Linked DNA regions of Homo sapiens. The protein of the gene in region 1 purifies or fractionates together with the protein of each later gene. This does not show direct contact. Each region holds a gene or a part of one and is shown on either strand. Other genes may lie near its edges.

Region 1 (3,746 bases):
AATGGTATTTATGTCATGTCGTTATGCTGATTTCCCAGACTAGTGTAAATATACTTAGTGAAAGTCTCTTTTATTTCTTTAGGCAAACAATTTTCCCTCTCTGAGCCTCTAGTGTTGATGATATTTGACTGAATGATGTCACTTCCTCTAATTATATTTTCTCTGCATGTTCTAGTCTCGGGGAACAAGGCTATTTCTAAAATCTCTTTATATTTTTTAAATATTTTGTTTTCCATCTTTATTTTCTTTTGCTTCCTTATAATAAAATGTTTTTGTTTCTTATTTTCTGTAACATGAAAAATACTTTATGACTGTATGTCTGTGACTATGCAATTGTTTATGTTTAAGAAATTGCCATTTGCATAAGGGCATTTATTTTTTTCCTTTATGCTACTTGAGTTTTGTGATAAATTTTAAAATTAGATAGTTAAAGACACAAGGGTACAAATTTAAAAAGCAACATAGCTATTATAATTTTGCTCAAAAAACATATTTATTGCCAACTGAAAACACGAGTCAAACTAAAAACTTATTATGAGATAGCTATGGTAATGACCTTGGCCCAGTGAGAGAGCCAACTTTCAAATATCTTAGGTATTATGTTTTCAGGTATATATTTTCTTTTGGGATTTTATAAATCCAAATGTCTCTTTTAAAACCAAAATAAGCTGTTACATATTGACATGACATATTTGCAAATCACAAAAAAGTTTATGAAAAGCATAATTCATTAAGAGTAGTTATTTTTGTTGTTGCTGGAAGGGTGAAGATGGAGGGAATCTGATAAAGACATCTTATAAATTCAACAGACACAAAAGAATTTGATCTCCCATAAGCAACTGTGAAATTACAATAACAGATCCTGGGAAGTTCTACAATTCTAATTCAGGTTTACAAGTTTTCTTCTCATCTATTCAGTAGATATTTTGTCGAGTACCTGTGCTAGGTTCAGCTGTGCCCCCAAAACATGTACATTCCTAACTTTTATTACCTGTGAATGTGATCTCATTTGCAAATAGGGTCTTTGTACATGTAACTGAGTTAAGATGAGGTCATACTGGATTAGGGCAGACCCTAATCCAATGACCGATGTCCTTATATGAAGAGGGAAATTAGACACAGAGACACACAGAGGAAAGACAGCTATGTGAAGATGGTATCAGAGAATAGAGTGATACTGCCACAAGTCAAAGGATGTCAAGAATTGCTGGCAACCACCAAATGCTAGAAGAGTCCAGAAAGGATTTTCTCTTAGAGCCTTTGAAGGAAGTATGGCCCTGTTCTTCTTGATTTTGGACTTGTATCCTCCAGAACTGTGAGATAATAAACTCCTGTTGTTTTAGGCCACTCAGTTTATGGTAATTTGTTATGGTGGCCTCAAGAAACTAGTACAGTACCTAACTATCCACCTAGCATTAGGGCAGTATACATAATAGATGTAGCCACTCACCTCTTCGTGCTTACATTGTACAGGGCGGTTGGAGTAGGTAGACAATAAACACATATATTATAATATTTCATTATATTTGGTGATAAGTGCTAAGGAGAAACTGAATCCATTGTGATAGAGATATGAAGTGTGTGGGTGATGTTGTTTGCGTGTGTCTCCACCCAAATCTCATCTTGAATTGTAGTTCTCGTAATCCCACATGTTATGGGATGGACCCAGTGGAAGGTAATTGAATCATGGGGGCAGCTACCCCCATGCTGCTGTTTTCGTGATAGTGAGTTCTCCTGAGATCTGATGGTTTTATAAGGGGCTTTTGCTTGGCTCTTCCCCTTCCTGCCATCATGTGAAGAAGGACATGTTTGCTTCCCCTTCCACCACGACTGTAAGTTTCCTGGGGCCTCCCCAGTCATGGCAAACTGTGAGTCAATTAAACCTTTTTCCTTTATAAATTACCCAGTCTCAGGCAGATCTTTACTGGGTAAATTTATAAAATGAGAATGGACTAAGACAGTAGGGGACAGCTGTTATTTTATATGTGGTAGTCAGGGAAGGTATCTCTGGGAAGGGAATACCTGAGCAAAGACCTGAAGGATGTCATGGAGCAAACCACAGAGATTTTCAGAAGAGCATTCCAGGTAGAGAGAACAGCAAGTGCAATCGCCCTGAGAAGTCTGTGTATTTCAGGGTTTTCCAAAAATGCCAAAGAGGCCAATGTAGCCAGAACAGGCAAAAATGATGGGAAAAGAGATGTGTTGAGGAGGTGGATGCTCACAGATTATGTAAAGCTTTGTCGGTGAATGACCAAATATCCCGGTTTGCCCAGGAAAGGCTCAGTATAGAATGTTGTCTCATTGTAATTCTAAAAAATTGTTTGGAATCTTCCATTGGTAGCTTGGGCCAGACATTAGCAATAGAGGTGGTGAGAAATGATTGGATGTTGTATAAATTTTGAACGTAGAGTCTTTCCTTAGGAAAGTTACTTTGCTTCACTATTTGAGCTTCCTTTAGTAAAAAGTAAACATAATGTGTCTTCTAAAGACATCGTGAGATTTCATGTGTTGATGATGTATTAGCAATTTTGTAAACATATTTTAAATGGCACACATTAATGTATTAACATGGGAGGCAGCATTGATATAAAAACAGGTTCTTGCCAATTTGTTCTCTCTCTGATCAAGTAAGCTGCAAACAGTATATTTTGAACCTATTTTTTTGGTATTCATTGTAGTATAAATGGTTATAATGATTTTCAAGTGTGTTCTTCCTATCTAAACAATATGCATTAATTTGAAACAATGAAATTGCCATTTTTCTAAGTCAGAAATGTTCAAACATCTGCCATTTCTTATAGTTCAACATAATACAGTAAGAAAGGATTAACCAGGCAATAAAGAAAGAGGTTCAGGAGATTTGGGAGATATTCCCAGGGGATATCCCCAGAGGCTGAATGGTCCTGGAGAAATCATAAGCATCCTTGTGCTTGTTTTCTTATTTTCACTGTGAGGCTAATGAAATAAAATAAAATGGCCAATTAAAATTTGATAGTGTTTTGATAGTGTTGTTGTTGTTTGAGGTGGAGTGTCGCTCTGTCACCCAGGCTTAACTACAGTGAGACAATCTCAGCTCACTGCAACCTCCGCCTCCCAGGTTCAAGTGATTCTCATGCTTCAGCCTCCCGAGTAGCTGGGATTACAGGTGTGCACCACCACACCTGGCTAATTTTTGTATTTTTAGTAGCGATGGAGTTTTATCATGTTGGCCAGGCTGGTCTTGAACTCCTGGCCTCTGGCGATCCTCCCACTTCGTCCTCCCAAAGTGCTGAGATTACAGGCGTAAGCCACCACGCCCAGCCAAAGTTCGGCAGAGTGTTTAGTGATGCCCAAACACAAACACAATATGGTTTCAGATGAGTATTCCTTATTTTTCCAATCCACGTTAGACTTGGGGAAATAGCCCTTGTCCCCTTGATGATGGGCCCTTTAATGTAAGTAATATTGCAGCCTTGCAGAGGTACATTCTACTTGAATGGCTAGCTCATTTTTATATAATGCCCCAGGCCACGCAGGCTGCTTGGCATCTTTGTGGAACTACGCTTACTGTCCCATCAAGCCTGTTTAGCAATTATTGTGTGTCATTATTAAAATATTATTCTCTTATTGTGAAGAAAAGATACTAAAGCATGCTGTAGGTCAGTCATTTTCTAGTGACAGGGATTAGAGGACTAGAATCCATTCAATTTTTAAAACTTTACCTACGAATAGTTAGAAAATATATGCTTGAAATAATCTCATTCTAG
Region 2 (3,746 bases), on another chromosome or scaffold:
GCCGCGTACTTGTCCAGGAGCTGGCGGTTCAGGTCCAAGAAGCCCTTGCCCCATTTAAACTTCCGCAGCAAAATGACAGCAAGGTCTGGAAAGCCTGACGGTGTGAGAAACAGGAAACCCAAAGAAGTCGACGGTCCCCTCAAGTGCCTCCTGATCACCCTGCTGCCGGATGGCGGCGCTCTCCCAAGTAACCGCAGGGTCCCCAGCAAACATCAGCTCACAGTCCTGAGAACCCGTGCTGCCCCCAGCCTGCACCTCCCTTGCTACAGTCCACACCTCTGCAACCGACCAAGTCCCCCTCCTTTGCTGCGAAACAAACATTCCCACCAAGACTGCCCCACGCCTCATCAGGGCCTCTTTAGATCAGCAATTCAGTAAGGAGGACGTGGAGGATAAGGAGGATTCTCTGGGCAGTGGTGCCCTGATAATGAATGGCACCCCACACACCGGCCCTGATAGAACAGCGATCCCATTCTGCCTCTACTGCAACTCCACAGGCCGAAAACCTGAAGTGACAGTTGGGGCTGGAACCGTGGTCTGTCTGAACTGTTCCCCTGTCCGTCCCTTATGCTCCTCCTGGGGTCTGTCGGCAGGAAACATGATGCTGGGAGCATAGCAGGAACAGCAGGCCGCCGGGTCACACTGCTGTGGGGCCCCTGGACTCACCTACGATGCAGAAGGTGGCAGCAAACGCTTCCACGCAGGAAAGTCTGTAGGGCCGGCCATAGTTCACGGGGTTGGCGGCCACCAGGTAGGGCAACAGGCGCAAGTGGCTCCCTCGCATCTTCCCAAACGGTGTCTCGTCCAGCCTGGCCCAGGAGCAGTCGATGACGGCGACCCCAGACTGCGCCACCAGCTGTCTGCCAGGGACAGCATGGGATAAGTTCAGGAGCCAGCACTACCCAAGGTGGAGCATGCCCCGGAGAATGGCCTAGCTAAGGGATTCAGGGACATCATTCCGCCATCCCCAAACACCCTCAAACGGACTTCACGAGCAAGCTTTTGAGGCAGCTGCTTGGGGCACCTGGAGCATGTGTTTATTCACTCAACAAACGTTTATTACCCCAAAACCTCCTTTATCCCAGGCTCTGCGCTACGCAACGGAGGCAAACTAGACAGACGTTCCCTGCCCACGTGGGTGTGGATGTGGGTGCGACATACAAGTGCCACTAAACCATCCCTGAAGGGAACCACGCGCTGGAAATGAAGACGACCTCGGGCAGGCCTCCCGCGCCTACCTGTCTGCGGGGGACGCGTACTGCTTGCCCACGGGGCTCAGCACCAGACCGCCGAATCTGTGGCCCAGGCGCAGGCAGCGCACCAGCCCCAGGCGGGCCAGCTTGCGGCCCGTGCAGCGCCGGGGGTCGCAGTGGCCCAACTCCCACATGGCCAGCGTGCAGGGCAGCGCCGCCGGGCCCGGGCCGCCCTCGCCGTCAGCCGCCCCTGGCTCCACGGAAGCTGCACGAGAGAGAGAAGGGCACTCGGCCTCAGCGTGGGACCCCCGGGCAGGCCCTCAAACCCTGACCCGCTCTCCCCATCACGCCTCGCTCACCCTGCAGCGCGGCGCCGACCTCCTCGGCGAAGGCCTCCAGGGAGCGCGTCGGGAGGTGCCGAGGGCGGCCGCCTTCCGCCCCCGGCCCGCGCGCTGCCCTCCTGCGGCCCATGGCGCGGACCTGGGGTGCCGGGGACTCCCCACCCCACGGCCGCGCCCCTCGGCCTCCCAATGGGCTGTGCGGCTGCCAGCGCTTGCGCCGGACGCCACTTCCGGTCCCCGTGGTCACGTGACCGTCACTTCACGTGACCGCGCGGCGGCCGCTGCGGCGCGATGGCGGCGGGGCTGGCGCGGCTCCTGTTGCTCCTCGGGCTCTCGGCCGGCGGTGAGTGGCCCGGCCGTCCGCGTCCCCAGGCCCCGCGCGCGCTCTGCACCCCGGCCTCCCCGCTCACGGTCTCGCTCCCCGTAGGGCCCGCGCCGGCAGGTGCAGCGAAGATGAAGGTGGTGGAGGAGCCCAACGCGTTTGGGTGAGCAGCCTCGCGGGCTGGCGGCTCGAGCGGGGGACGGCCCGGGCCCGTTCCCCGCTGACCTTGCCGCTTCCCGTAGGGTGAACAACCCGTTCTTGCCTCAGGCCAGTCGCCTCCAGGCCAAGAGGGATCCTTCACCCGTGTCTGGTGAGTGAGGAGCGCTGTTGGCCGGCGCGGGGGTGGCCGCGGGGAGCAGCAACAGTGGAGGATGGATGAGTGACCCTGAGAGTTACGGCCCGGAGTCTAAAGCATTGGTTTGTCAGCCTTCTAAAATTAATGTGGAAGTACGAGAGAATATACCAGAACGTTCTTGTAGCGAATTAAATTATCTCCAGACTTAGTCCTTCCTTTCCTTTCCGAGAGGTAACTGCTGTTAATAGTCTGGTGACTTTGCAGACGCGTTTCTGTGCTTTTACGTGCGTGTCTATGCAACTGGAAAACGTATAGTTTTTGTAATCTAATCGCTTTTTTAAAAAATCATGCTGCGCGAGTATTTGGCTGATTTGTCGTTGTCACTCGCTGTATCTCTCGGGACGCTTCATGGTGATGATATAGGTCTTCGTTCTTTCTCTTGGTGCTCAGCACGCGATAGGATGGCACTGCACTCCCCGATTGTATTTAGGTTCTTGCCATTTTTTTGGCCATTAGAAATAGTTCTGTGGAGAACATGCTGTGTAGGTGCTTTGGTTTGCCCTCAGGTGAGCGGTTTCCCAGTGCAGGATTCCAGAAGTGGAATTGGTGGGTCATGAGTATATATATCATTTAAACGCTGAATGAGTATTAAATATAATAGACAAAAATCCAAGAATTTTTTTTTTTTTTTTTTTGAGACAAGAGTCTCGCTCTGTCGCCCAGGCTGGAGTGCAGTGGCACGATCTCGGCTCACTGCAACCTCCGCCTCCCAGGTTCAAGCGATCCTCATGCCTCAGCCTCCCGAGTAGCTGGGATCACAGGCATGCATCACCATCACGCCCAGCAAATTTTTGTATTTTTAGTAGAGATAGGGTTTATTTCACCGTATTGACCAGGCGGGTCTCGAACTCCTGACCTCAAGTGATCCGCCCATCTCGGCCTCCAAAAGTGCTGGGATTATAGGCGTGAGCCACCGCGCCCAGCTTTAGTAATTTTATTATCGAATACCTTTATGTGTTAGGGTCTGTGCTGGGGTTGCAGAAACGAACACAGATATACCAATGCTTGTCCTCATGGAGCTGACAGTCTAATGGGGAGGGATGGAGGAACAGGCACTGAGCCTGTAGAATTAGATAAAATACATAGAATGGCCAATGATGAAAAATGCCATGTAGATGTGTGAAGCAGAGGAGGGAGTGTGTGTATGTGTGTTAGAGTATTGTTTGGGGGATCGCTTTTTTTATTTTTTAGAGACGGGGTCTTGCTCTCTCACTCGGGCTGGAGTGCAGTAGTGCAATCATAGCTCACTGCATCCTTGAACTCCTGGGCTGAAGCAATCCACCAACCTCAGCTTCCTGAGTAGCTGGGACTACAGGTGCACGCCACCATGCCCGGCAAATGTTAAGTGTTCTTGTAGAGATGGAAGTCTCACTATGTTGCCCAGGCTGGCCCCAAACTCCCAGCGTCAAGCAATCCTCCTGTCTTGGTGGGGATTGCTTTAAATAGGGTGCTGAGGAAAAGTCTAAGAAGTGACATTTCAGCCAAAAGCTAAAGGAGAAAAGGGAGTAAAGCTGTGGCTATTTGGGGAAAGGGAT

Evidence for each region. The genes of interacting proteins can lie anywhere in the genome.
Region 2: the proteins of FGL1 (region 1) and TSR3 purify together in Homo sapiens (affinity purification with mass spectrometry; 4 studies listed by BioGRID and IntAct, with this or other methods). This does not show direct contact.

Annotation. Positions count from the first base shown.
Region 1 is NC_000008.11:17,888,824-17,892,569, reverse strand, and holds part of FGL1 (fibrinogen-like protein 1 precursor), read left to right. Parts: intron 1-762; exon of another isoform or gene 763-889; intron 890-3,746. UniProt on the Homo sapiens protein: Immune suppressive molecule that inhibits antigen-specific T-cell activation by acting as a major ligand of LAG3. Responsible for LAG3 T-cell inhibitory function. Binds LAG3 independently from MHC class II (MHC-II).
Region 2 is NC_000016.10:1,350,141-1,353,886, forward strand, and holds the start of TSR3 (18S rRNA aminocarboxypropyltransferase), read right to left. Parts: upstream 1,739-3,746; 5' UTR 1,665-1,738; coding exon 1,553-1,664; intron 1,459-1,552; coding exon 1,239-1,458; intron 861-1,238; coding exon 667-860; intron 95-666; coding exon 1-94. Other genes in the region: GNPTG (N-acetylglucosamine-1-phosphotransferase subunit gamma precursor), read left to right, coding at 1,826-1,877, 1,962-2,019, 2,099-2,166. UniProt on the Homo sapiens protein: Aminocarboxypropyltransferase that catalyzes the aminocarboxypropyl transfer on pseudouridine at position 1248 (Psi1248) in 18S rRNA.